Homo sapiens: one gene and its partners. The protein of the gene in region 1 purifies or fractionates together with the protein of each later gene. This does not show direct contact. Each region holds a gene or a part of one and is shown in the gene's direction. Other genes may lie near its edges.

Region 1 (4,712 bases):
TATCCCCATCTTGCAAATGAGGACACTGAGGTACAGAGGAGTTTAGTCACTTGCCCCTAGTTCCACAGCCAGTAAGTGTGGAGTGAGGATGTGGGTCCAAGTAGACTGACTCCAGAGTCCATGTTTTATATAATATGAAGTGCATAAGTTAATAACAAGAAGCTGCCATCTACTCTCTCTCACTGTCCTCAATCTGGGATCCAACCAACTGGATCCCATGGAAACCCATCAAATCAGAGCTCCACACTTCCCTGATCACATGTAACTCAGGAGCCAAAACTCTGTTGGAGGAATTCACGTGATTGTCTTAGAGTTGTGGCTAAAAACACAGTGAGTTCATGCTCATTGTTTTAAAAAATAACACTATGGCTGGGTGCGGTAGGTCACTCCTGTAATCTCAGCCATTTGGAAGGCTGAGGCAGGTGGATTGCTTGAGCCCAGGAGTTCAAGACCAGCCTGGGCAACATAGCAAAACCACATCTCTTAAAAATAAATAAATACATGTGTGCTGGTGCACACATGTAGTTCTAGCTACTCAGGAGGCTGAACTGGGAAGATAATCTGAGCCTGGAGAGGTCAAGGCTGCAGTGTGCCAAGATTGTGCCACTACACTCCAGGCTGGATGACAGAGTGAGACCCTATCTCAAAAATAAATTAAAGAGGCCAGGCATGGTGTCTCACGCCTATAATCCCAGCACTTTGGGAGGCTGAGATGGGCAGATCACCTGAAGTCAGGAGTTCGAGACCAGCCTGGCCAACATGGTGACACCCCATCTCTACTAAAAATAACAAAAATTAGCCAGGCGTGGTAGCACATGCCCATAATCCCAGCTACTCGGGAGGTTGAGGCATGATAATCACTTGAACCTGGGAGGCAGAGGTTGCAGTGAGCTGAGATTGCACCATTGCACTCCAGCCTGGGCAACAGAGTGAGACTGTGTCTCAAAAAGAAAGAGAAGAGAGGAGAAGAGAAGAGAAGAGGGGAGGAGAGGGGAGGGGAGCGAAGGGGAGGTGACAAAGGAGGGGAGGGGAGGGGAGAAGAGAAGAAAACAAGAAGAAAAGAAAAGAAAAAAGACACTATGGACAGAAGACAATATGACTAAGGGAAAAATCTGACCCTTGGAAGGGTCAGAAGAATCACTGGAAGAATCACCCGACATTGTGTATGACGTTGGTCTTAGGTCCCACTCCAAGAGCGGCCTCTGACTTCTGTTGTTTCTTCCAAATGAATAAAACCATGGTTCTATAAGATGTGAGCTGTCCCCAGAAGAACAAAGACTGGGGTTGTCACATTTAGCAAATAAAGATACAGGGTGCCCAGTCAAATTTGCATTTCAAATCAATGAAGAATTGCTTAGTATAAGTATGTCTCATGCAATATTAGAGACATACTCATACTTTTAAAAACTCTTCATTGACCTAAAATGCAAATTTGACTGGGCACCCTGTAATTTCCCTGGCAACCCTTCCCAAAAGCAGACTATTTGGATCTCATCCACTAAAAAGGGCAGAAACTCCTCAAGAGGCCACCACACTTCCCAGAGCCCAGTCTCCTTCCTAAAAGGAAGACAAATAGGTCCAATAGATCCCACTCTGGCCCCCCCTGCCCCCAGATGCCCCCCTAATACACCCCTCTCCCTGCTCCTATTCAGTCCACCCTCTCCTGCCCTTTATAACCACTTGGAGAAATTCCACTGACACAAGGAATCCTTGGAGGGTTAATCCTTCTGATACCAAGTCACACTTTAACTCATTCCCTCCAGGCCAAGGATTAAAAACTGCCCATGCAAGGGTCAGGTCTCCAGCAGACCCTGAAAGCTGAGCTGCCCTGACCCCCAAAGTGAGGAGAAGCTGCAAGGGAAAAGGGAGGGACAGATCAGGGAGACCGGGGAAGAAGGAGGAGCAGCCAAGGAGGCTGCTGTCCCCCCACAGAGCAGCTCGGACTCAGCTCCCGGAGCAACCCAGCTGCGGAGGCAACGGCAGTGCTGCTCCTCCAGCGAAGGACAGCAGGCAGGCAGACAGACAGAGGTCCTGGGACTGGAAGGCCTCAGCCCCCAGCCACTGGGCTGGGCCTGGCCCAATGGCCTTTAATGACCTCCTGCAGCAGGTGGGGGGTGTCGGCCGCTTCCAGCAGATCCAGGTCACCCTGGTGGTCCTCCCCCTGCTCCTGATGGCTTCTCACAACACCCTGCAGAACTTCACTGCTGCCATCCCTACCCACCACTGCCGCCCGCCTGCCGATGCCAACCTCAGCAAGAACGGGGGGCTGGAGGTCTGGCTGCCCCGGGACAGGCAGGGGCAGCCTGAGTCCTGCCTCCGCTTCACCTCCCCGCAGTGGGGACTGCCCTTTCTCAATGGCACAGAAGCCAATGGCACAGGGGCCACAGAGCCCTGCACCGATGGCTGGATCTATGACAACAGCACCTTCCCATCTACCATCGTGACTGAGGTGAGCACCTGGGGCTCCCCATCCAGGGGCCAAGATGGGAAGATGGGGGCCTTTGTTAAAAAAAAAAAAAAAGTACATGGAGAAATTAACTGCTGAGTTTTTTAACTGCTGAGTTAAAAAGAAAAATGCTCTCAGCTGTCAGGACCAGAGAGGCAAAGGGCAAAGTGCCGGAGGAAGAGGGTGACATGGACCCCAGAGGACCAGCTGAAGTGGGGGAAGGGGATTCTCTGAAGCCAGGCTCATCTCTGCCTGACCCTTGCTCCTCTCCCCACAGTGGGACCTTGTGTGCTCTCACAGGGCCCTACGCCAGCTGGCCCAGTCCTTGTACATGGTGGGGGTGCTGCTCGGAGCCATGGTGTTCGGCTACCTTGCAGACAGGTCAGTCCTGGGTAGGGTCAAGGGGCTGGGCTGGGCTGGGATTAGGGGCTCAGCTGGGCTCAGGGTGTCTAGGTGGGAGCTTGGCATTGCCAGCCGGCGCTGGTTTGAGGATCTACAGCACCAGCCTCATACTTCAGAGGTCCTCAAAAGGCCCCAGCCCAGGCATCATCCAGGGTGAGCCCTCCTCTCCTGGCTCAGCCTGACCCCCATCAGTCTCCAGGGCCCTGCTACAAGTCTCCCCTCCTCCCACAGGCTAGGCCGCCGGAAGGTACTCATCTTGAACTACCTGCAGACAGCTGTGTCAGGGACCTGCGCAGCCTTCGCACCCAACTTCCCCATCTACTGCGCCTTCCGGCTCCTCTCGGGCATGGCTCTGGCTGGCATCTCCCTCAACTGCATGACACTGAGTGAGAGATTCTTACCAGCCCACTCCCCTCCGGCCACCCAGCCCAGCAACCCCTTTCCAGCCTCCCCTCCCAGCCTGCCCCTCCTGAGCCCTGCCTGCCCTCCAGCCTCTCTCGGGTCTCACCTTCCTGCCAATAGAACAACCTTTTCTCAGGCTCATGCCGCCCTGACCCCTCATTTAAAAACAGGATTGCGGGCCAGGCGCAGTGGCTCACACCTGTAATCCCAGCACTTTCGGAGGCCGAGGCGGGCAGATCACGAGGTCAGGAGATCGAGACCATCCTGGCTAACATGGTGAAACCCCGTCTCTACTAAAAATACAAAAAATTAGCCAGGTGTGATGGCAGGCGCCTGTAGTCCCAGCTACTCGGGAGGCTGAGGCAGGAGAATGGCGTGAACCCGGGAGGCGGAGCTTTCAGTGAGCGGAGATTGCGCCACTGCACTCCAGCCTGGGCAATAGAGCGAGACTCTGTCTCAAAAAAAAAAAAAAAGCAGGATTGCAAACTCCATTGTTAGAGCCAGCAGATCATGTAAGACGGCCAGGTGCAGGAGGCATTAGGGAATGGTGAGAACTGTATTCAAAGGAGAGACACCTTCATCCAGAGACACTACAGGCATGCAGCTGCTCCAGGCAGGAGATCCTAGGGCTGTCATAGCTTCCCCCTCCTCTTTGATTAATGTAAAATAACCCAGTTTTTTTTCATGTTTGCAATTAACTCTAATAATAAACATAGGATGAGGCAGCATCGTGCAGACAAGACACATTTGTGGACTGAGTGTGGTCTCTCCATGGGCCATTGATGAGCATCCTCTGATGGATCAACCCCCGCTTACCCCATGTTTCCCAAATGAGGAATCCAAGGCCAAGAAGAAGGGAAAGGATTTACCCAAGGGCATTCCTCAACCACAGAAGGGAATCCAGGGATTTGGGATTCTCTGGACTAGAGGAATTAACCGGGACTGGGCTAGAGCCTGGGCAAGACACCTAAGAAATCCAACCCCCAAGTCCAGCCTAAGTATCCAAGTCCCTGTCCCAGCAGCCCAATGGGGAGCCCACCTGGACAGGAGGTAGGCCTCTCCAGACCACACCAGAGAGGTGGTCCCACTCCTACTTCAAGACTCCAGGATGGAGAAAAGCCACTGCCTCCTCCAAGATGCTCTGGCCACTGAGAGTGGAATCCAGCCCATAGCTGAGGAAGACCAGAGGAATGGTTGCTGCTGAAGACAGACCAAGTGGCCAGAGGTGCTCTCAATGGAGAAGGAACTCTAGCCAGGAGAATAGGTTGAGGAGGAGCAGAAAAAAAAAAAAAATCAAGAGTGTGGAGGGGGCAGTTCCCAGATATTCTGAACCCAGCTCCTCATCCATACCTCCACTGAAATTCCCCCACTCCCATCACCCTGGCACTCAACTTACTCGATGCATTTTCCACTGAGCCTTGGGACAGGCCAAGGTTTGGATGGAGGGAGGGGCCTTTACTAG
Region 2 (3,051 bases), on another chromosome or scaffold:
TGGAGCGCCTATCCAGTGGGCCGGAGCAGATCACCCTCGAGGCCAGCAGCACTGAGGGACACCCAGGGGCTCCCAGCCCTCAGCACACCGACCAGACCGAGGCCTTCCAGAAAGGGGTCCCACACCCAGAAGATGACCACTCACAGGTAGAAGGACCGGAGAGCTTAAGATGAGACTCATTGTGTGGTTTGAGACTGTACTGAGTATTGTTTCAGGGAAGATGAAGTTCTATTGGAAATGTGAACTGTGCCACATACTAATATAAATTACTGTTGTTTGTGCTTCACTGGGATTTTGGCACAAATATGTGCCTGAAAGGTAGGCTTTCTAGGAGGGGAGTCAGCTTGTCTAACTTCATGTACATGTAGAACCACGTTTGCTGTCCTACTACGACTTTTCCCTAAGTTACCATAAACACATTTTATTCACAAAAAACACTTCGAATTTCAAGTGTCTACCAGTAGCACCCTTGCTCTTTCTAAACATAAGCCTAAGTATATGAGGTTGCCCGTGGCAACTTTTTGGTAAAACAGCTTTTCATTAGCACTCTCCAGGTTCTCTGCAACACTTCACAGAGGCGAGACTGGCTGTATCCTTTGCTGTCGGTCTTTAGTACGATCAAGTTGCAATATACAGTGGGACTGCTAGACTTGAAGGAGAGCAGTGATTGTGGGATTGTAAATAAGAGCATCAGAAGCCCTCCCCAGCTACTGCTCTTCGTGGAGACTTAGTAAGGACTGTGTCTACTTGAGCTGTGGCAAGGCTGCTGTCTGGGACTGTCCTCTGCCACAAGGCCATTTCTCCCATTATATACCGTTTGTAAAGAGAAACTGTAAAGTCTCCTCCTGACCATATATTTTTAAATACTGGCAAAGCTTTTAAAATTGGCACACAAGTACAGACTGTGCTCATTTCTGTTTAGTATCTGAAAACCTGATAGATGCTACCCTTAAGAGCTTGCTCTTCCGTGTGCTACGTAGCACCCACCTGGTTAAAATCTGAAAACAAGTACCCCTTTGACCTGTCTCCCACTGAAGCTTCTACTGCCCTGGCAGCTCGCCTGGGCCCAACTCAGAAACAGGAGCCAGCAGAGCACTCTCTCACGCTGATCCAGCCGGGCACCCTGCTTAAGTCAGTAGAAGCTCGCTGGCACTGCCCGTTCCTACTTTTCCGAAGTACTGCGTCACTTTGTCGTAAGTAATGGCCCCTGTGCCTTCTTAATCCAGCAGTCAAGCTTTTGGGAGACCTGAAAATGGGAAAATTCACACTGGGTTTCTGGACTGTAGTATTGGAAGCCTTAGTTATAGTATATTAAGCCTATAATTATACTCTGATTTGATGGGATTTTTGACATTTACACTTGTCAAAATGCAGGGGGTTTTTTTTGGTGCAGATGATTAAACAGTCTTCCCTATTTGGTGCAATGAAGTATAGCAGATAAAATGGGGGAGGGGTAAATTATCACCTTCAAGAAAATTACATGTTTTTATATATATTTGGAATTGTTAAATTGGTTTTGCTGAAACATTTCACCCTTGAGATATTATTTGAATGTTGGTTTCAATAAAGGTTCTTGAAATTGTTACCAGTGAATTCAGTTTATAAATCTTATTACAAAAGACTTACCCACGTACCTGAAATAGCTGCCGATAGACCAGTGAGAGGTAGGTTCTCCTCTGCCCGTTATTACCGACCAAAAAAAAAACTGGACATCAATTTTTTAGTAAACCAAAAAATAAGTCTCAACAAATGCCTTTGCCAAAATAAGGTTTTATTTTGAAAGTCATTTGATGAAAGTCATTTGAAAGACACTGAGGAGGGAAGGAGGCCTAAGACCCAACAGATGTAGGATCCAGATCTGGATTCGTGCCAGCCCCACCAATGGTCTGTCAGGCCAAGAAGGTGCTTTCTTTGGTAATTCATGTTTTTTAACTTCCTGGAGAAGAGATCTTTTCCCACAAGCCATCTTCATTTTTTTTGTAGAGTAGGGCTTTATTTCCAGAAAACAGTGTGTGAGCTGGAGATGGGTGTTTTTTTAAAAACATCAAGGTAGATCTAATATGTTCAACAAAGTGGGGTGGCTCAGCCAGAGGCGAAGTGGAAAGATTCTGAAAACACAAGATGGTGGGCATTAGAGAAGCCAACCTTACTGTCCCCTGCTGTGATAAAGATGTCAAAGTATCTTTGTTCTTGGACACAAATATATATAATAAAATACGTTAAGAAATGAGGTGGCCTGAATTAGTAAGAAAAAAGTTGATTGCTTACTGCTTTACCCACACACATTTCCATCTAGGACTTGACATATCCCCATTTGATATACAAGTTAAATGGGGTCTGTCAATGGCATCCAAAAAGTTACTACCCGCCAAAGGGAAAGCAGCTATGACCTGGTCTAAACCCTTTTTTTCTTACAGATGGGGAAACCAGGGTGCAGAGATTTAAGACTTACCCAGCCTGTAAACTCTCACCTCTAGTATTTGCTTGTCATCTTGGTGCAACCAGAAATCCACATGTGGAAATGGTGTCCAGGAGTACGGTCCTATACGAAGTTGTTCTGTCTCTGCATCATAAATGCTAATCATCTAAAAAAGAACGTGTCAAGGATAGAATTTCAGGAATGTCACCCACTTTTCAAACCCTCCCAGTAACGCAAGCTCCAGTGTAGTCCTTTCATGCATTTATCTGCCTAAGCTTCTTAAAACCTGTCTCAAATAACAAAAGCTGCCAGCTACTGAACACGTCCAGTGTGTCTGCTTCTGCACACTGTGGGGCACGCACGACTGCTGAGCGCCAACAGCAGTCCCACAGGACGAGGGTGTTTTTTCCCATTTGGGGTGAAAACTTGAGGCTCAGAGAAACAAGGCCCATTTCCCAGGTTACGTGTCCAGTAAGCCTCAGAGCTGGACCTCAAACCCAGGCGCTTCTGACTAAAGTCTGTGTTCCCATTGCCTCATTATTTATACCCCAAACAACTGATCACCTTGCAATTTAAAAGCATACAGTGCCTGCTGCCCCATCAAAAGAAGAAGCTAATTTGCCAAATGATCC
Region 3 (4,147 bases), on another chromosome or scaffold:
AGGGACTTGCCCCAAACGGACAACAACAGAGAAGAGATTCGAATTTAGATTTGCTCTCTCCCAGGGCCTTGGACTCTTTCTGCCACCTCAGGCGTCTGTCTGGACACTGTAGCCCAGAACACATACAGATGGCATAAAGAATCCCACAAAGTTTTAAGTGTCAATACTGAGAAAACAGCAAGCAGACCACCAACTCCAGGCCTGAGACTTCTGGTCCCTTCCTGCTGTCTCACTCTGATATTAGCAGACCTAGTGAGCTTTGGAGACTCCTTCTGCCAAGAGATTCTGTGAGTGTGGCCTGAGCTATCTGAGGGTGAAAGGAAGGAAAGGCTTTCCCTTCCAGCACTGTTTGCTTTTCTGTTTAATAGGCACAGTAACAACCAGTTCCTGATAATATTCAGAGCACTTTGCAGTCCTCTGCTGGAAGTCCCTAGGAAAAATACAAAGCCCCGCAATTATCAAATGACTCACTTCCAGGTGCATAACACAGTGGGACACTCACTGCCTGGGAAGAGGGGCTCAGCTTGGAAGCAACCCTGGGCTGCTACTGCTTTCTCTCCCTTCTAGGTCATTTCCCTGAAGCTGATGCAGGAGTCCCCCCAACTCTCGCCCCCTCCTCCTGTATCAAAGCAGCAGGGAAGGTGTTGTCATTATTTTGGCCCTGCCCGCTAGTGCAAAACCATGTGCTCATAACATACTGTTCTCATGGGAGCCGGCTTCAATAGCCTCTTAGCAGCAGCCGGGGGACCCGCCTGAAGTTTACGAACGCGTCCTTTGTTTGCTGAGACTTTGTTCCAAAGTTCCCAAGGAGGCAGGGGTGCAGCATGCCTGGGCTGGAGGGTAGGAGAGCAGGGGCTGCCTGGGTCCTACCCCTGTGTGCTGCCCCAAAATGTCCCTAATGTACCCATGCCGCTTCCTGACATTTCACCCCAACACATGCCTACCTGCCAGTGTCAAGAGAGCCCTCACTCCCTTTTTTGCAGAGAAGGCTTTCCATTCCTTTTATCTCAAATAGCCCAGGCCACACTCACAGAATCTTGGTAGAAGGAGTCTCATAAGTTCATTAGGTTTTACTCCCTGCTTCATGCCCACATTTCATCTAGATTGTCACCTACCCTTCCCTAAACAGTCCGGGTGAGGAAAGTCCATAGGTACATGTCTAATGTTTCACAGATACCAGGTCACTGAGCAGCACAGCTCGTGGCTTCATGGGAAGAGTATAGGCTTGAAAGTCAGATAGGTTTGGATTCAGATCCTGGCTCTATGATGTTGGTGAGTGGCCTCACCTCTGTGCCTCAGTTGCCTTATCTGTAAAATGGAGATAAGTGCCTGCCTCAGAGGTTTGATGTGAGAATGATACATGTAAAGCTTTATTGTGCAATGCTTAAGCCTCAATAAATGGGATGCAGTGGTTGTAATTCATTAAACCCTCCCATGGTGTGTCAGGGCCCTGAGGCTTGTCCAGTTTTTTCCTGAAAGAAGAATTACTTCTCTGCTCCTTCTCTTACTCTGTAATCCTCTGTTTATTTCTACAAGAAGCTTGAGCAAGAAGGGAGGTGTCCACGGCAAGGCAGCTGAGGGTCAGAAAACGTGTCAGGGTTCATTCCTGGGCCATTTTCTAAACGTTGGCAGTGAGTCTGCCTGCAGTTACATGAAGGCCAGTCCAGACCAAACGGGGCTGCAACCGTCTCTGTCTCCAGGGCTACGTCTGGAAGGGATTTTGCTGGAAGGGATTTTCCAAGGCACTTACACTGTTAGCACTTTGTTTTTCTGACTGCAGTGCCCCTCCCAGGAAGAAAGAATGTAGAAGTTACTTTATCCAGAGCTTTCCACTTCACTCCAGGAATTTCAAATTCCTGCTCCTGGGAGTAAAGGCAGTGAGGTTCTTTTCCCAATCCTAACTCCATTCATGTATTCAGCAAGCATTCATTATAGCAACTACCCTCTTCCAAAGCTGGGTACTCAGAACCTAATGGAAGAGCTGTCAGTGTCAATGATGCCAGATTGGAGGGAGTAAGGGAGGGTGCTGCTGACCTTCCTAGGTCTCCAAACTTCCTCCTCTTCCTCTGTGTCAGCCCCTGGGGCCTTTAGAAGAAGACAAGGAGGTGGAGGAGACAACTTAGTCATACTCCCCAGGCTTCTGGAGGAGCTGCAGGGATGTTGTTCACCCACTTCTTCCCAGAGGACTCCTTAACATGCAACCATGACGATTTAACAAATCAAAAAGGAGACATGACCGCAGCACCAGTACCAGTGCCAACAGCAGTATCATTTACCAAGCACTGCCGAGTGACTGTGAGATGGTCCACAAGGCCATAAATTGGACACTATTGCCATAGCAAGTTGTAGAGCCAAGATTCAAACCCAGGCCTTCTGATTCCAGAGTTTGACTCCTTAGCAATGGTTCTCTAAGCCTCTGCAAACTGTTAAGCTCTTCTTAGCTGATGAGCTTTGGGCTGTTTCTTTCTCGGTGACAGTAGGAGTGGAAATGAGCCTGTGTGAACTTGACACTATCAGTGGCTGCTTGCTGCCCACCTCAGTCTGACTGACGCACATATGAGTCATGGGTCCATGCATTCAGCAGGCATTATTTGGACACCTACTGGGTGCCAGCACAGCCTCGGTGGAGCACCCGCATCACACCTTATTGCTCCGTCCCTGTGACTAGAAAATGATGTCATAGTAGGGTTGTTTTGTGCAATCCGTAGAGAGTGTGACTCTGAGTAGTCATAGGTACTTCTGGGAGCAATTTTGCTAACTGTTCCTAGCCTTACCATGTGGGCCCTCTGCTCTCCAGAGAGGAGGAGGACTGGTTTGCTCTGACTAACTGGTGTGGGAGGGCTGGCAGAGGCCCGGCTCTATTGTTCAGCCCAGATCCTTGCAGCAGAGCACAAGCAAAGACGCTCTTAATTTTTTTTACAGCTGGGCTGGCCTCCCCTTTGTCTTTGTGTCTGTTACTGTTCCCCTTTATTGAGATGAAAGGGGTTTTTAGATCTTTGCAGGGAGAGTGTGTGTGTGCGTGCATGTGTGTATGTGTGTGTGTGTGTGTGTGTGTGCATGCGTGCAGGAGGCCCACAGCGCTTCTCTTCCTCTCCCCTCCCCGCTCTCCCCAGCCCAGCTGGGGCCCAGGCTTTGTGTCAGGTACCGCCTAAGCCGCAGGGGGACTCGGGTAGAAGAACAGTCTGGGATTTCTTTCACTGTGTGGGGCCTAGAATCTCAGGAAGCCAGGACGTGGGTAAGAGACCAGTGGGGTGGGGAGGCTGAGGTGGGGAACAAGCCTTTCCGAGGTCGTGGACAAGGCCTTGGGGGGTTCATCCTCCCCCATCTCCTAGAGGCAGAGTGTCTTTCTAAGCTGGGCTCTCTTTGTTCCCATCCAGGGGTCAAACAGAAGGTGGCTGCTGGGTGCTGGCCCTTTATTTAATTCCATCCATCCTAGTTTCTCAGTGAAAGGGGGAAAGTGGAAGGGGGCGGGGAGTGGCCAAGGGAGGGCTTTGTTCCCTCCTTGTTTTCCTTTGTGTTTACTCCCGGTTCTGTTCCAGTCCCTTCCCCTTTCCATTGAGTCAGTGTGTCTGCTATTGTGCAGAGCCTGCGTCTAAGCGTGCAGCCTCCCCTCCCTGTCCCACTGAGAAAGTGTGGTTTTGCCTGAACGTTTGTGGCTCTGCTTGGAGGCAGGGGGTGTGTAGATCATGGGGTGGAGAGAGAGAAAGGGGACGACTCTTGGGAACTCTGGCATGTCCTGCCCCAAGGTGGGTATTCATGCTCTCTCCAAACCAGCACCCTTGTGGGTGAGATGCGGCCACAGGGCTAGGGGAAATTCGGAGGAATACGAGCCCAGACCAAGCCAATGTAGGACAACGGGAAGTGGTGAGGGCGCATTGCTGTCACTGTGATTCACGCATAGAAACCGGAGATGGGAATCCTGGAGGCTGAGGGAGACCTTCCCCTGCAGGCTGGCTGTGGGAGAGGCATCCTTCCTGCAAGTGGTGGGCATTTGTGGGGAACTGTCTTGTGAAAGTGGTGCCTCCAGTGCATGGTGTGAGCTGTGGGCCCCCAGGATAGTGTGTGTCCTTAGCACGGAGCGCAGGTCTATGCCAGTTGCTCTGGGGAATGCAAAGACAAACAGGACCCTGCCCTTGCCCTGGAGGAG
Region 4 (3,276 bases), on another chromosome or scaffold:
TAGCTGGGACTACAGGCGCCTGCCACCACGCCTGGCTAATTTTTGGTATTCTTAGTAGAGACGGGGTTTCACCGTGTTAGCCAGGATGGTCTCCATCTCCTGACCTCGTGATCCGCCCACCTCAGCCTCCCAAAGTGCTGGGATTACAGGCGGAAGCCACCGCGCACGGCCGGGAATATTATTTTTAAAGCCAAAATCCAACCTGGGCACAGTGGCTCACGCCTGTAATCCCAGCACTTTGGGAGGCTGAGGCGGGCCGATCACTTGAGGCCAGGAGTTTGAGACCAGCCTGACCAACATGGCGAAACCCCATCTCTACTAAAAAATATGAAAATTAGCTGGATGTGGTGGTGCTTGCCTGTAATCCCACCTACTCAGGAGGCTGAGACAGGAGAATCGCTTGAACCTGGGAGACATAGCTTGCAGTGAGCTGAGATTGCACCACTGTACTCCAGCACTTTGGGAGGCCAAGGAGGGAGGGTCACTTGAGGTGAGGAGTTCCACATCAGCGTGGCCAACATGGTGAAACCCCGTCTCTACTAAAAATATGAAAATTAGCCAAGGGTGATGGCATGCGCCTGTAATCTCAGCTGCTCAGGAGGCTGAGGCAGGAGAATTGCTTGAACCTGGGAGATGGAGGTTGCAGTAAGCTGAGATCACACCACTGCACTCCAGCCTGGGTGAAGAGTGAGACTGTCTCAAAACAACTATATAAAACAACTATATAAAGAGCTATATGCTGAAGAGAAGAATCCCCAAACAATTCTACCTAAAATCTAAGCTATTTTAAAAGCTTTAACAAATGTAGGGGACTGGGTAATGTTGTACTAGAGCTTGTTTCTGAGATTAGCCCATGTACATTGGTAGAGTGTAGCCTTTGTGGCTCACCTGTTTTTACTTTGCAATGTCTGCTCCCACAGGTGGGCTCGGTGGTGGCCGTGGGCTGGATCCGCTCCCGCAAGGCTGTGGACTGGCGCCTCTTTCGGAACATCTTCGTGGCCTGGTTCGTGACCGTCCCTGTGGCTGGGCTGTTCAGCGCTGCTGTCATGGCTCTTCTCATGTATGGGATCCTTCCATATGTGTGATTTGTCTTCTTCCAGCTGCAAACAGCTAAAGGGATGGTCTGGTGTTGGCGTGTGGGAGACATGTGTGCTCGTGCCGCACATACACATCCTGGCCGTGCACGGCTCTCTCATGACCAGCTCTCTGCCTCCCTTCCAGGAGGCTCCATCCCACACTGTTCACCCAGGCTGCGGAGACTCACCTTCCCGAGCTAACTTAACTACTGTACATAATAATATGTATTAAACTGGTATCGTGGTGATATAATGTGGTGCAGTTACTTATATATTAAATATCTATTGTATCCATAGAATAGGCAGCATTATTTCAAACATATTCAAGTTGGGAGTGGAGATCATTGCCTAGAAGTCAATATTCAATAAATCTTGTACATAACTATTTCGATGGCAAATGTTAAGCCTTCTAAAAGGAAAGTGTAGATTGGAAAATGATTTTTTTTCCAAATGATGTTTTTGCCTTCTAATATACTGTAAGGTAATGAGCTTCAGAACAGGCAACCTGACCCTGCAGAGGTCGCGTGCTGTGGGATGACAGCGGGACGGGAGCTCACAAGTGCTTTCACTGAAGATTTGTTCATATACTGTGTATTGATTGTTGTGTAATATATCATCATTGCTTTTGTAAATACGTAAAACTGTAATTTTTTAATGGTGTGCTTCCCTTATACTTTTTTGATCAGAGAATTTTGGAAAGTACCAAAGAAGCAGGGGAATCATTGGCCAGTGTTACGTTTTCACATTGTCTGTCTCCCACCCTCACTGATCACGCCTGCCCCAGAGCAGTGTGTGGCGGTGACACCGTCACCCAGCATGCGCCACGCCGTGGCTCCCACCAGCAGTGCCACCGCCACCACACCCCAGATCCCACCCACCTTGCAGTGGCCTTTCCTTGTCATCAGAGTAGAGAATGCACAGGTGTTGGTGAGGGCGTGTGGCTGAGCACTACATGTCAAGTCCAGAGTCAGTTTCTATCCCAATTCTCCCTGCAGCCTGAAGAACGGATCCTTGTCTCCAATGTCAGCACAAAGGAGGCTTTTTCTGTGCTTTGACATTCTAGCACTTCAGGGATGAGAGGGAGGGAGAATCCTGGATGCTGGATGGAGTATTTCTCTGAGGCCCACACAAAGCTGGACACCCCCAGGCTCTACTCCATCCCATTGGAGTCTCTTCTTTTTTTGATAGCGGGAGGGAGGAAGTACGACTAATGTTGGAGCCTGAAACTATGGAAATGCTGCTAAAATTTTTATATTGACAAACATTTTCTTGGTACTTCATTGTCATTTTTCATTAATCAACCATATTAAATTTATAATAAAAAATGCCCCTCAGAAGTTTGCCTCTGAAGCCTTTTTCTCAATATTGACAATTTTTCTTTCAGAGTGAGTTTCCACAAAAACCAAAGCTATATAATTTGGCCCTTGTATTTTTCACATACCTTTTTTTGGTTTCCCTTATTTGACTACTGTTACGGGCTTGTACAGAAAACACAGGTGAGCAGGAAAGGGAGGCACGGCGTCCCCGCCCCGCATTCAGAAACCCGCAGTCAGCAGCTCATGGAGCAGTCGGTTGCCATGTTCAGGGCTGAGGACCCAGCAGGGAAGTGCAGGTCTTATCCTTTGCTCAAGCAGCCAAAAACACCCTGGCTTGCATATTCTGGAGCCCCCAGAGGGAAACCCCTTAATCCTCTGTAGCGGTGGTGGCACAAGCTCCGACTCCCTTAGGAGCTGTGAAGGTGACAGATGAGGCAAAGTGGCAGGTGTGAAAAATGCATCTTGTGGCCGGGCACGGTGGCTCACGCCTGTAATCCCAACACTTTGTGAGGCTGAGGTGGGCGGATCATGAGGTCAGAAGATGGAAACCTTCCTGGCCAACATAGTGAAACCCCATCTCTACTAAAATACAAAAAAATTAGCCTGGCGTGGTGGCATGCGCCTGTAGTCCCAGCTACTTGGGAGGCTGAGGCAGGGGAATTGCTTGAACCCGGGAGGCGGAGGTTGCAGTGAGCCAAGATCACGCCACTGCACGCTAGCCTGCCGACAGAGAAAGACTCCATCTCAAAAAAAAAAAAAAAAAAAATGCATCTCCACTAAGAGCCCTGCCCTTTCTGGTGTTTAAAATGGCACCTTCAGCCCTTCATTTCCGCACTTCAAGTAACAGCACAACACAATGCAGGTGAACCTTGTGCAGCCTAAGC
Region 5 (4,841 bases), on another chromosome or scaffold:
CAAGAAAACAAACAAATAAATGAATAAATGTCAGCTGCAAGGATTGGAGTGGATTCTTGCATTTGCATAGCACAGTGAGTGTAGTGGTTAAGAGTGGGCTTTGCAGTCAGACGTGACTGTGTTAAAATCATGCTACTGTCACTTATTAACTGTGGGACGTTGGGCAGATCACCTAACATCTCTGAGCCTCATTTCCTCACCAAAAAAAAGAAGAATCATAATATGGCACCTCCTCTAAAGCTGTTGTGAGGATTAACTCATGTAATGAATGTGAAGAGTTCTGCGCAGGCACGTGATAAACATCCAGAAACTGTTTATTCTGCTTGTTGTGCAGTCTTTAGGGCTTAAACAAAGTACTTTACACTGATTGCCTTACCTGACCCTCTCCAGGACTCTGGGTGCTAGGGCATTAACTACCCTTTGAAAGGTGAAAACATTGATGCCCATTGAGGTGAAATGATTTGTCTTCAGCCACAAGGGGCAGCATCAGGAGTAGAACCCAAGTGTTTGTGTTCTGATTCCCAAGACAGCTTATGACGTTTTGGAAACTCTGAATCTGATGGGTGACAGAAACTTGGGGATCATCTCTAGATAAGAAAGGGAGTTCCTTGAATGACTGTGAAGACGTTCACCGGAAAGGGAAGGAAAGGAAGTTAATCATGCTTCCTTCACAGGCCCTCCTTCACCCCCATCTAGTGGGCACATGCAAGCTACAAACAAGGTGAGGAATGAACAAATTAATACATACTCAATAGTGGCCAGTTCGAGGCAGATAATTAAATCAAGATGACCTGAAAGGATGTGACTGGCTGTGGCTAGTTTACACAGGGTGGTCAGGGACGGCCTCGCCATGGAGAGGGCTGGTGTTTTGGCTGAGACCTGAGAGACCAGAAGAAATCTGATGGCCAGAACCAATGTTTAGGTCCCTAAAGAGAACAAGCGTGGCGAGCAAAGGGGGCCAGTATGGGTGGAGATCAGCGAGGGAGGGGGGCAGAGATGAGTGCCCGAAGCACACAGTACCTTGGCATAGGGAGGGTTTGATTTTACCTACAAATGCCATTAAACCCACTAAGGATTTTAACAAAAACTACAATTACATTTTAATTTACATTTTATGTTTTATAGAGACAAGGTTCGGCTATACTGCCCAGGTTGATCTCGAACCCCTGGGTTCAAGCGATCCTCCCTACTCGGTCCCCCAAAGTGCTGGGATTACAAGCGTGAGCCGCTGCGCCCGGCCTTTTAATTTACATTTTAGCCTTCCGGTTACTGGAATCTTTGATGGGGAATGAGTTATAGTGAGGCAAGAGCCTCTAACATTCTAGGAGCTCTTTTCCCGTTCGGGGCCTCAATTTCCCGTTCTACAAAGGCGGGTGGGAGGGAACGGGGTCCCAAGTAGTACTGGATAAAGAGGTGGCCGATCGCAAACGCTGAGCACTTCAAAACTCTGGGCAGAGCGCTTCCGCGCCTCTCCTGCTATTTCACCCTGGCCACAGGCTAGCCGCCGAGGCCGGTCATCCGCTCTCTCCGCGGAGGAGTCAACGCCACGGAAGCAGCGGCGGAACCTCTCTAAGAATCCTTCCAGCTTGTGCTCTTCTGTCCAGGGCAGCCAATCGCGAGGAGGAGAGTAGTCAGAGGGCGGCACCCTCCCCGGTCTGGGCCGAGTTATTGGCTGGTGGTAGCGTCGCTCGCCCGGCAGTACCACGTGACGGCCTCGGCCGCGGGCGTTTACACTGGCTCTGCCTCCGGCATCTCTTCGCCGGTGCGTCCTCGCCGCGCCCGTAGGTCCCGGCAGCCGGGCCCCGCCTCCTTCGGAGTCCGAGCGATGGGCGGGGAAAGGGACAGGCAGGTATAGCTCTGTCGGCGCCGCGGTGTCCACCTCAGTCAGGCCACGGTGGAAGACGCGTGCCGCGGCGCCTGGTTGCCTGCAGCGGCCCGGACCCGAGAGGTGAGAAGAGGGAAGCGGACCAGGGAAGAGGGAGGGAGCGGTGCTGGCCGCCAAGCGGTCAGCGGGCCCCTCCCAGAGTCATTCTGCCTGGGTCCCCGCGCGGTAGAATCCCAGATCAGGGGTCGCCGCCGTGGAGCGGGGCGTGCGTCAGGTTATTTCCCGGGTGGTCCGGGGCCGGGCGAGTGGCACTGCACCCTGGTGATCCGGGCCTGCCCGTCTGGCTGGCGGCTGCCCACCCGCCCTCCATCCCGCGTATCTCGCCGTATCTCGCCGGGTGCCACGCACTCCGCTGCTTTTCCAGTCCTCGTTGATCCGTCTCGAACCTAGATATCTGGAATAGGGATCGAGGAGATAGGAGCCACCACCACCTCGGACAGATGGGGAAACTGAGGCCGGCACAGGCGAGACGGCTTGGTTATCTTGGTTATTAAAAATCACACACCCGATTAAGTACAAAATCAGGACCTGTTCTTTCGGACTCACACACTAAGTTGGTATTATTTCACTGGATGGATGGAAACACTGAGAAGACAGAGAGGGCCCAGAGCCTTGCCTAAAAATACACAGCAAGTCTTTTGCAGAGCTAGGACTTGTACCCAGCTCTCCAAACTCATAGACTATCAGCCTGGGCTCCTTCCTTGCACAGATTGGGGATCACAGTGAGTTAGAAACATTCAGAACTTAAATTGCCTTCCGGCGCCCATTCTAGTTAACCTGTCTTTTCTCCTTGTCCCCAACAGTTCTTTATGTGAAATCTACAACTAATGTGATATGCAATACTAGATTAAGCAGAACTTTTTGTTTTTGAAAATTGAATCAATAAGAAATGGAGGGCCAAAGCTGTGGGAAAGGAATGGACCCTTTAAAATCAGGAATCTCAAGGCAGGATATAGCAAGGGACAGAGACTAATAGCTGTCGTTTATTGAGTAAATGCTATGTGCCAGGCACTGTGGTAGGTAGTTGTGTTAGCCTTACAAACCAGCAAGTTAGGTAATGTTACCCCATTTTACAGGTCAGAAATTGATGCTGAGTACAGTGAAGTTTTACAAAACCATTGCCATATGACTGCTGAGCAGTATAGCTGGGATCTGAACAGAGATCTGTTTGACTTCCAGAACACATCCAGTGATTCTCCAAGTGTGGTCCTAAGCTCACTCGTTCAGCATCATCTAGCGTGTGGAGTCCTGGATCTCATCCTTGGATTTGCAGGGATGGTCCTAAGAAGCTAACGGCTCTCTGTATTTGACAATTATTGTACTGTAATGTGCTGCCTCCTAGGGGAAGATCTAGAGGTGAACATACTCTGGGCTAGGGGTAATTTTTGAGGGAAAAAAATCACTTTTTTTTAATTTCTGATTTGACTTTTTTTTTTTTTGAGACCAGGTCTTACTCTGTCATCCGGGCTAGGAGTGCAGGGGCGCGATCTAGGCTCACTGCAGCATTGACCTCGTGGGTTCAAGCAAACCTTCCACCTCAGCTTCCTGAGTAGCTGGAACCACAGGTGCACGCTGCCATACCTGGCTAGTTTTTGTAGTTTTTGTAGAGATGGTGTTTCACCATGTTGCCCAGTCAGGTTTCAAACTCCTGAGCTCAAGCAATCCTCCTGCCTTGGCCTTCCAAAGTGCTGGGATTACAGGCATGAGCCACTGTGCCCTGCCCACACTTTTATTTTTTATTTTCCCCCATGATTGACAGAAGGATAATCACGCTTTTAGTGAATGTAAACCCCCAGGCAGATGCTTGCCAAGCTTAATTTCTTGACATAAGCTTGGTTTTGGCATGTGGGGGCGGAAGAGTGGGGTTGGAGAGTTAAGTGAGAATGGGGAAAGTAACTCCTTTTTCCTTATCATATAGCTGTTAAATTCTAATTCACTCAACAGATACTTGCTAAGCATTTATTAGGTGCAAGACATGTTCAAGACACTGAGAATACAGCTTTGAACAAAACAGAGCAAGTCAGTGCCCTCATGTGAAAGACAATTAACAATGTGTGGTATGGAATGGTGAGAAGAGCTATGGAGAAAAATAAAGGGCATAGGAGTGCAAGGCAGGGCTGGGCCCAGGAGGAAGACATGGAAATGGCAGCAATGGCAGTGGTGCTATATTTATTTATTTATTTATTTATTTATTTATTTATTTATTTTTTGAGATGGAGTTTCACTCTTGTTGCCCAGGCTGGAGTGCGGTGGCGCCATCTTGGCTCACTGCAATCTCTGCCTCCTGGGTTCAAGTGATTCTCCTTTGTCAGCCTCCCAAGTAGCTGGGATTACAGGCACATGCCACCACGCCTGGCTAATTTTTTTTTTTTTCTTTTTTTGAGACAGAGTCTCACTTTGTCTCCAGGCCGGAGTGCAGTGGCGTGATCTTGGCTCACTGCAACCTCTGCCTCCCAGGTTCAGGTGATTCTCCTGCCTCAGCCTCCTGAGTAGCTGGGACCACAGGCATGTGCCACCACGTCCGGCTAATCTTTTTATTTTTAGTAGAGACGGGGTTTCACCATGTTGGCCAGGATGGTCTCAATTTCATGACCTCGTGATCCGCCTGCCTCCGCCTCCCAAAGTACTGGGATTACAAGCGTGAGCCACCGCGCCTGGCCTAATTTTTTGTATTTTTTAGTAGAGAGGGGGTTTCACCATGTTGGCCAGGCTGGTCTCGAACTCCTGGCCTCAGGTGATCCACCTGCCTTGGCCCCCCAAAGTGCTAGGATTACAGGCATGAGCCCCTGCACCCGGCCTGCTATTTTGCATATTTGTTTAACTTTTTTTTTTTTTTTTTTTTTTTTGTGGAGACAAGATCTTGCTATGTTACCCAGGCTGGTCTCGAACTCCTGGCCTCAAAGTGATCTTCCTGCCTTGGCCTCTCAAAGCGCTGGGATTACAGACATGAACCACT
Region 6 (4,147 bases), on another chromosome or scaffold:
AACCTCCATGTCATTTTCCATAGTAACTAGACCTTTTTGTTTTTTAACATTTCTATCAATGTACACCAAGATTCCAATTTCTCCATGTCCTCCCCAACACCATTAAGTGGGGTGGTGGTCTACTACTATTGCTGTGTTGCTGTTTATTCCTCCCTTCAGTTCTGTAAGTGTTTGCTTCATATATTTAGGAGCTTAATATTAGGTCCATATGAAGTTATAATTTCTTCCTGGTAAAGTGACCCATTTATCATTATGTAATGTCCATCTTTGTCTCTTGTGACAGTTTGTGTCTTAAAGTCTATTTTGTCTGATGTAATTATGGCCACCCCTTTTCTCTTTGGGTTCCCGTTTTTATGGAATATCTTTTTCCATCCTTTCACTTTCAGCTTATGTGTGTCCTTAGATCTAAAGTGAGTCTCATAGATAAGGTATAGTTGATTCTGTATGTGTTATTCACTCAGCAATTTATATCTTTTAATTAGGGGATTTAATCCATTTACATTTAAAGCAGTTACTGATAGGGAAGGACTTACTGTTGTCATTTGGCTAGCTACCTTTTTATCTTTGTCCTGTGGCTTTTCTGTTTTTCCCTTCCTCTCTTCCTGGCTTCTTCTGTGTTTTGTTGATTTTTTTTTTTTTTTGTAGTGATATGTTCTGATTCCCTTCTCATTTCCCTTTGTGTGCATTCTATAGATGCTATTTTTGTGGTTACCATTGCAACTACATAAAGCATACTAAAGTTATAGCAACTTATTTTAAGCTGTTTACAACTTAACTTCAGTGGTATATAAAACTCTATTTCTTTACATATTTCACCTCCTCCCCACAAACTTTATGTCTTTTGATATTGTATATCCTTAACATAGATTTATAGTTACTTTTTATGCTTTTCTTCTTTAAATTCTGTTTAAATTTTGTTTTTGAAATTTAGATTTTCAAGTTATTTATATACCTTCATTACAATACTATAGGATTTTATAATATTCTAAATATTGACCTTTACCATAGAGTTTCATATTTTGTGGTTTTGTGTTGCTATTTATCATCCTTTTGTTTCTCCTTTTAGCCTTTCTTGTAGGGCCGGTCTAGTGGTGATAAGCTGTATCAGCTTTTGTTTGTCAGGGACAGTCTTAATTTCTCCTTTTTTGAAGGGCAGTTTTGCCCATACAGTATTTTTGTTTGGCAGTTTTTTTAAGTTTCAAAACATAGAATATAACATTCCATTTCCTTCTAACCTGCAAGATTTCCATTGAGAAATGCACTCAATGGATTTTTTAATCCATTGAGATAATTTTTTAATCCTGTAGGATTTAAAATTTTTAGTCTTACAGGATTAAAAAATTAAAAAGTTAAACTTGTTATATAACATATTAACATGTATTTTATACTTAAAGTATCTTATGTTTAAAAAGTTGATTATCATATATATTTTATACAGTTTCTCCTAATTATTGCCTTCTAATGAAATACAGGGACCTAGAGTAACAGGGATAAAGTATGGCCTTTTGATCAGCACGCCTGGTTCTGAGTCCTTCTTAAAAAAACTCTGGGCCTGGTGTGGTGGCTCATGCCTATAATCTCAGCACTTTGGGAGGCCGAGGCGGGCGGATCACCTGAGGTCAGGAGTTTGAGATCAGCCTTGCCAGCATGGTGAAACCCTGTCTCTACTAACAGTACAAAGATTAGCTGGGCGTGGTGGTGGGTGCCTGTAATCCAAGCTACTCAGGAGGCTGAGGCAGAAGAATCGTTTGAACCTGGGAGGCAGAGATTGGGCCACTGCACTACAGCCTGGGTGACAAGAGCGAGACTCCATCTCAAAAAAACAAACAAAAACTCCGCTGAGATGAATTTTTCTCATTTCTAAAATCAGAATAATAGATTTATGTAAGAGTTTCTGTAAGGCTCAAATGAAATATATGTAACGTGTAAAATGAGATACAATTAGTAGAATTATATTATTTTATTAATACTCACCATAAGAGGTGTTCTTTAGATCCTGCAGCGTTTGCTGCGCAGTTCACGTTTGTTTAGAAGAATGTCAGTAACCGGTGCAAACCTCATGTGTTCCGCACCCCCAGTGGCCTCCCACCTCTCCACAGAGTCACCGCCTCCTGCAGTGCCTGCTGCTTCTGCAAATGCGTGGCCTCATCCTGCAGAAACGGGGCTTCTCATGAGGTTGAGAATAGCTGTGAAAATGTTTACGTTGAAGTTGTAGAGTTCGTTAATTATTTTCTTCTTTATTTCTCTGGCAGCTCTTGAAGTCCTATTGGCTGGATAATTTTGCAAAAGATTCTGTAAACCCTGGAGTCATGGTGTTGCTGGGATGCGGTGCCTTATCCAGCACCTGTGGTCAGCTGGCCAGCTACCCATTGGCTTTGGTGAGAACTCGCATGCAGGCTCAAGGTGAATTTTTGATTACAGAACCACACCGATAAAAGTGCTGCACCAGTAATGTGCTTTTAGAACTCCAAGTTCTACTAAGATGCAGACTGTAGTTTTAAGACAGTATTTCTCAACCTTTTTTTCATTATTGCCTCCTTAAGGAATCTTTTCAGAAATTCTTTTTCTAAATGCTCCCTCGTCATGAAATTTTAATGCGACAGAAGCATTGCATATGTACTGTATGCATACATATGCCTTATAGATAAACAGAGTACTATTTTTTTTGACTGTGTTACATGCACGTTTTAAGATTATAAGCTTTAGTATCTGATGGATTTGGGTTCAGATCCTTGCCTCAGACTTCTTGGGGTTTTTAATGGGAATGAAAATTGTACAGTGTTGTAAGAATTACCAACAATATAAATAAAGCATCTTGGGTTTGTTAAATTTTTGGTAAATGGTGGTTGGAATCATTTTTTAGTGTTGCGTAGACCCTACAAGTTTTGAGCTGTGATTCCTCCTCACTGTGACAGTCTCCATTGTTGGCTTTGATTACACTGTACCATCCTGGTTGTTCTGCCAGCCCATTGATAACTTTTACCATTTGCTGGCTTTTATTGCTATCCCCACTCTATTAAAGTATGCATTCAAATGCCTTTCTTTTCTCTTTGATGCTTTCCCTGGTCAGTCTTATCCATTGTTTTCTTAAGTAGTACACCTTGGGCATCTACAGCTCTATTCCCAACCTCCCTTCCAAGTGCCAGCCACAGCAACCCCAGCCAAGCAGTCAGTAACTAATTGGCAAATACTCCCTGAGCCATTGTCCCATTCTAGACACTGCCAGATGCTAGGGGTAGAGCAGTCAACAAGTCAGGTGTGGCCCCGCCAGTGTAGAGTAGAGAAGACGTTATGTCCAGCAAGTAAACAACCTGGTTAAACCAACTCCTCTTTTGTTAGGGGAGCACAGAGCAAGGAGCTATAACCTAACTTGGGCGCTGCAGAATGCTGTCAGTGAAGCTGAGACTGGAAAGATGAGTGGGAGTTAGCTGGGCACAGGCCAGTGGAGTGGGAACAGAAAACATTCCAGTTGAGGGAAAGCATGTGTGAAGACACTGAGGCAGGCACCAACATGGTGTATTTAAGGAGCTGAGAGACAGTCATGGCTGTAGAGAAAAACACAAAGTAGTGAACTACACGTTTCTTGTGTATTCTCTCATTTCACCATCATAACCATCTTGGGGATGGGAATACTAACATTATCCCCATTTTTCAGATGAGCAACTGGGGCAGAGAGAATTTAAGTAACTCCCACAAGATTATACCTGTGGTAAATAGTGGGACTGAAATTCAGACACATGCAGTCTGATTCTAACCCTCCTGTCTGCCAGCTCTGATCCAGAACTTTGCATGACTGATACGGCTGATAGATTGTCTATGGCTGATAGACTGTCATTTCTGACCTAAAAGTCTGATCATTTTACATCTGTTCAGACATCTTTGCAGCCTTTCGGTGTCAGTTCCAAAGTTGTTAGTGGGAATTTCAAAGCCTTTAATAATCTAGCCCCACTTTGTTCACTCTCTGTGTAATAACCACATACAACAATTGGCTGCATCTCCATAGCACATGGTACTCCTCCCGTTGTCTTGGTTGTGCCAGCAACACTGGTTTTCGCTTTCTCTTCCTGCTTGTTGAGGTCATTTCCAAGGCCCAGGTCTTTGTGCTTTTTCCCAAGCTTCCCAGAGCTTCTTCCATACTCCCCTTACT
Region 7 (4,147 bases), on another chromosome or scaffold:
CCTTCCATGAGTGAGAGAGAAGTGGAGAGGAAGGTCAAAGCTTTTACTCTTTTATGTACAAAGGGGTGCAAGCTTCTATTTAAATCTGGGAGAATTTTTTCTGCTTAAATTTAAGACCATATTCCCCTTGAGTGGAACCGCCTGGGTTCAAGTTCTCACTCTGCCACTTAATAACTTGGACTTTGGCCTGTTTCTTAACATCCCTGTACTTGAGTTGCTTCATCTCTAACAAAAGGATAATAAAAACATTTACTTGCTTCTCTAGTTGAATCTATGGATAGGTGTATCTAATTATACTTTTTCTAGAGAATTCTCTAGACCCGGAGAATTAACATGTTTTATATTATGTGAATGGGTAATTGTTTACAGTTAATTAGTAATTGGTAATATTCTGGTATTTAAAACTTGTGTCAAACTTAGAGATGCCTAATGACTGTATAAAAATGATCCTTTTGATTATACAGTAACCCCAGGCCATCATTGAGTAGTTTCTTTAGTTTTCTTCCTACTGTAATATCAGTTCCTTGTATTTATTCAAAGGCTAGCTAATTTGATTTTGGTTTAGTGTATATCTTAAGATATTAGTAGAAACTGAAAATATGTCTTGTGGTGGTTATTCTCTTATAATTTTATTTTATTCTTAGTTTCTGTACTATAAAGAAATGCTGGCTGGGTGCAGTGGCTCACACCTATAATCCCAGCGCTTTGGGAGACTGAGGCAGGAGGATCACTTGAGCCCAGGAGTTTGAGACCAGCCTGGGCGACATGGCAAAACCCTGTCTCTACTAAAAATGAAAAAAATTTAGTTGGGCTTGGTGGCGTGCATTGTAGTCCCAGCTACGCAGGAGGCTGAGGCGGGAGGATTGCTGGAGCCCAGGAAGTCAAGGCTGCAGTGAGCCGTGATTGCGCCACTGCACTCCAGCCTGGGCGATGGAGTGAGACCCTATCTCAAAAAAAAAAAAAGGAAAAAGAAAAATGCTACTTTTCCATAATTGATAAAAGGATGTTAACGATTTTAAGGAATATTTAACTAAGTCACCAATTCATTTTTTTAAACATCTGTGTTGCCCATCTTATGCTTGCTGAGAACTTGTTTTACCGAGTATAAATATGTTGCTTTCATTGGTTCTTTTAAAAATTTTTTTTGTTAGACATTAAGTTGTATGTAACATTACATTTCAGATTAAATGTTTTTATTTTTTATTTGTTTGAGACAGGTTCTTGCTCTGTTGCCCAGGCTGGAGTGCAGTAGCACAATCATGGCTCACTGCAGCCTTGACTTCCTGGGCTCATATGATCCTCCTGCCTCAGCCTCCTGAACAGCTGGGACCCACAGGTGCATACCACCATGCCCAGTTAATTTTTAAATTTTTTGTAGAGACAGGGTCTGGCTCTCTTGACCAGACTGGTCGCGAACTCCCAGACTCAAGTTCGAGACTGTTCTTGAACTCCCACACTCAAGCAGTCCTCCTTCGTCAGCCTCCCAAAGTGCTGAGATTACAGGTGTGAGCCACCACATCCAGCTAAATTTCAGGTTAAATGTGTTTAATAGAAGAATATATTTGGCAGTAGTTTTGTTGCTACTGAATTGATAAAAAGTTTTTTTTGTATTCTAGACAACCAGATGTTCCAATATTTTATTACAGTTGTGCCAACAAAACTACATACATATAAAATATCAGCAGACACCCATCAGTTTTCTGTGACAGAAAGGGTAAGTTGAATCCAACCGGTAAAATAATTTGGTGATTTTTTTAAAAAAGCATTTTAAAGTTTCCTGGCTACAAAATAAGGTGGTGTTTTACTTGGTGTCTTCCCTCATTTAAAAATCTGTGGAAGTTTTGAAATGAATTAACATTTTATTTTAAATCAGAAATATGTCAGAAATGAATATTAGTATATTCTAAAGCAATAAAAGTAGATATTTAAAAAATCTGAAAGGTTTTCTATTGCATTAAGACTTAAAATTGTTAAATTGTGATGGCCTTAATTATTTTATTCTTAATGTCTTAATTTTATAAATGTTTTCTCATAAATTGATATAAGCAGTTCTTGATCTGGCAGCAGATTCTTTGAATTCTGTTACTTATTTATTAATAAATGTACTACCTTCTCTGGGCATACATGGTTATCATGGATTAGATAGCAAATTTAGAGGGTTTGCCTTCCTAAATTAATGCTTTGTATTCATCTGATTGTGATGAAGAACATTCCACTACCTCAGGGTGGTATGGCCATATAAGTAAATACTGACAGTGATGAGCAAAGTTTTGGAATTGGACAGTTTAATAGATTTCTTATCTACTTTGGGGTCATGTTTTCTTATTTTTGTGTTTGAATGGTGAATTCAAACACTTGTATCCAGAAGAATTCTAAGGCAAAATTTAAGTGCTTTAAAAATTTTGCTTTCCTTTATATAGTGTTTTCTTTTACTAGCCTTATAACTCATGATGACCATGCCCTCAATAATTGTGGAATTTTTTTTTTTGTTCTTATGAGATTAGGTATTGGAGTTTTTAGGGGTGAAGTGTCATGTGTCTATAGCTTTTCACTTGGCTTGGGAGAAAGTACAAGTTCATATAACTGCATATATATGTATAGGTATGTGTGTATATACACTCACACAAAGAAACTAGGTAAAGTTTATACCAGAACATATTGTGCTTTTCAACATTTCTTTAAGGAGTAGGGAGATTCCATTTCTCACCTGTAAGATTGGCAAACACCTCAAGGCAATACATACAGTTGAGAAGACTTTGGGGAAAATAGGCAAACATGCAGTGCTATGGGGATGCAAAGTGGCATAATCTTTGAGGAAGGTAGTTTAGCAGTATCTGCAAAAGGACCTATGCATTTATCCTTTGACTCAGCAATTGCACTTCGAGAAAGCTATTCCAAAGATACGGTGGGCAAAAATATAAAAATGTGTGTTTCAGGCTATTCGTTGCATTGTTATCTGTAATAGTAGAAGATTAGAAACAACCCAGATGGTACATCTACACACACTGGAGGAAGATGCAATTGTTAAAAATCAAATGAGAAGGATTTCTATATACTGATAGGAAAATATCTCCAGGGTATATTTTTAAAATAACAAAGCCAAAAATACATATGTAATAGAATCCCAGGGCATTTGACTGTTGAAGGATGTGTTTATACTGATAGGGTGACTAAAATAGTTTTTTAACTTAAAAAAGAATGGAGTAACTGGGGTTGGTAAAATGCAGGATAGGGGGTGGGAGGGAGAGGGCTGACATTCATTAGTCCTGGAACCCAAAGTGAATCATTATTAGTCTTTCATTATGTATATGCCCTGATCCCTAAAACAGTTTCTACCCTTATAGGTAGTGACAATATATTTATAACTCAGCATGATATTGAGCATTTTAGAGCTTTAAGATGTAGTCACTTTATTGGAAACTTGATCAGTTGGCTTATAAGGCTGTATTGTGCTAGTAATAGGGAAAGAGTTTTGTAATGCCCTACGTAAAACTGTTTTAATTTCCCTTGGTAGTAGTTAACCTCATTATTTGTATTCCTAAAGCTTGCAGTTTAGTTATAGCATGAGGAACATGCCATACATATTTGTAAGCTCTTGAGCTCAGTAGAAAACTTGTATCTAAGGTGACCTTTTTGAGAAAAAAAGAATGATTCTGCTCTTTTGATAGTTTCAAAAGCTAACCACACAAAGAATACAAAATAATTTGTCTCTGAAGAGCTTAGTCTAGTAGGACAGTTCATAAGGAAATGTGGATGTCCTTCTTTTACAGTAGGGCTTCAGGGCTTAATATTGAATGTATGTAAGTAACCAGATGACATGAATTCTGTTTCTCTCTTCCTCCTATTTCTCCCCTTCCTTTTGCCTCCCTTTTAGGAACGTATCATTAACCATGCTGCAGGCAGCCATGGAGTCTCTGGGATATTTATGAAATATGATCTCAGTTCTCTTATGGTGACAGTTACTGAGGAGCACATGCCATTCTGGCAGTTTTTTGTAAGACTCTGTGGTATTGTTGGAGGAATCTTTTCAACAACAGGTTAACAACCATTTCCTTTTTGTCTAATTTCTGAAAGTGTTGCTTATACTTAAGTTGCTTCTTCTCAAAGGGGCAAGAAGTATACAGATTTTCATGTTTCGGTGTTTAAA

Evidence for each region.
Region 2: the proteins of SLC22A6 (region 1) and PDXDC1 purify together in Homo sapiens (affinity purification with mass spectrometry; 2 studies listed by BioGRID and IntAct, with this or other methods). This does not show direct contact.
Region 3: the proteins of SLC22A6 (region 1) and ITPRIP purify together in Homo sapiens (affinity purification with mass spectrometry; one large-scale study listed by BioGRID and IntAct). This does not show direct contact.
Region 4: the proteins of SLC22A6 (region 1) and SLC20A2 purify together in Homo sapiens (affinity purification with mass spectrometry; 2 studies listed by BioGRID and IntAct, with this or other methods). This does not show direct contact.
Region 5: the proteins of SLC22A6 (region 1) and SLC26A2 purify together in Homo sapiens (affinity purification with mass spectrometry; 2 studies listed by BioGRID and IntAct, with this or other methods). This does not show direct contact.
Region 6: the proteins of SLC22A6 (region 1) and SLC25A24 purify together in Homo sapiens (affinity purification with mass spectrometry; 2 studies listed by BioGRID and IntAct, with this or other methods). This does not show direct contact.
Region 7: the proteins of SLC22A6 (region 1) and ERGIC2 purify together in Homo sapiens (affinity purification with mass spectrometry; 2 studies listed by BioGRID and IntAct, with this or other methods). This does not show direct contact.

What each region holds. Positions count from the first base shown.
Region 1 is NC_000011.10:62,982,059-62,986,770, reverse strand, and holds the start of SLC22A6 (solute carrier family 22 member 6), read left to right. Parts: upstream 1-1,803; 5' UTR 1,804-2,080; coding exon 2,081-2,449; intron 2,450-2,723; coding exon 2,724-2,827; intron 2,828-3,079; coding exon 3,080-3,234; intron 3,235-4,712. UniProt on the Homo sapiens protein: Secondary active transporter that functions as a Na(+)-independent organic anion (OA)/dicarboxylate antiporter where the uptake of one molecule of OA into the cell is coupled with an efflux of one molecule of intracellular dicarboxylate such as 2-oxoglutarate or glutarate.
Region 2 is NC_000016.10:15,036,103-15,039,153, forward strand, and holds the end of PDXDC1 (pyridoxal-dependent decarboxylase domain-containing protein 1), read left to right. Parts: coding exon 1-173; 3' UTR 174-1,928; coding exon of another isoform or gene 1,929-2,108; 3' UTR 2,109-2,230; downstream 2,231-3,051. Other genes in the region: NTAN1 (protein N-terminal asparagine amidohydrolase), read right to left, coding at 1,929-2,108, 2,472-2,585.
Region 3 is NC_000010.11:104,327,953-104,332,099, reverse strand, and holds part of ITPRIP (inositol 1,4,5-trisphosphate receptor-interacting protein precursor), read left to right. Parts: intron 1-3,107; exon of another isoform or gene 3,108-3,235; intron 3,236-3,842; exon of another isoform or gene 3,843-3,844; coding exon of another isoform or gene 3,845-3,846; intron 3,847-4,147. UniProt on the Homo sapiens protein: Enhances Ca(2+)-mediated inhibition of inositol 1,4,5-triphosphate receptor (ITPR) Ca(2+) release.
Region 4 is NC_000008.11:42,415,612-42,418,887, reverse strand, and holds the end of SLC20A2 (sodium-dependent phosphate transporter 2), read left to right. Parts: intron 1-920; coding exon 921-1,085; 3' UTR 1,086-2,413; downstream 2,414-3,276. UniProt on the Homo sapiens protein: Sodium-phosphate symporter which preferentially transports the monovalent form of phosphate with a stoichiometry of two sodium ions per phosphate ion.
Region 5 is NC_000005.10:149,959,032-149,963,872, forward strand, and holds the start of SLC26A2 (sulfate transporter), read left to right. Parts: upstream 1-1,726; 5' UTR 1,727-1,948; intron 1,949-4,841. UniProt on the Homo sapiens protein: Sulfate transporter which mediates sulfate uptake into chondrocytes in order to maintain adequate sulfation of proteoglycans which is needed for cartilage development.
Region 6 is NC_000001.11:108,137,314-108,141,460, reverse strand, and holds part of SLC25A24 (mitochondrial adenyl nucleotide antiporter SLC25A24), read left to right. Parts: intron 1-2,252; coding exon 2,253-2,403; intron 2,404-4,147. UniProt on the Homo sapiens protein: Electroneutral antiporter that mediates the transport of adenyl nucleotides through the inner mitochondrial membrane. Originally identified as an ATP-magnesium/inorganic phosphate antiporter, it also acts as a broad specificity adenyl nucleotide antiporter.
Region 7 is NC_000012.12:29,343,010-29,347,156, reverse strand, and holds part of ERGIC2 (endoplasmic reticulum-Golgi intermediate compartment protein 2), read left to right. Parts: intron 1-1,616; coding exon 1,617-1,714; intron 1,715-3,874; coding exon 3,875-4,037; intron 4,038-4,147. UniProt on the Homo sapiens protein: Possible role in transport between endoplasmic reticulum and Golgi.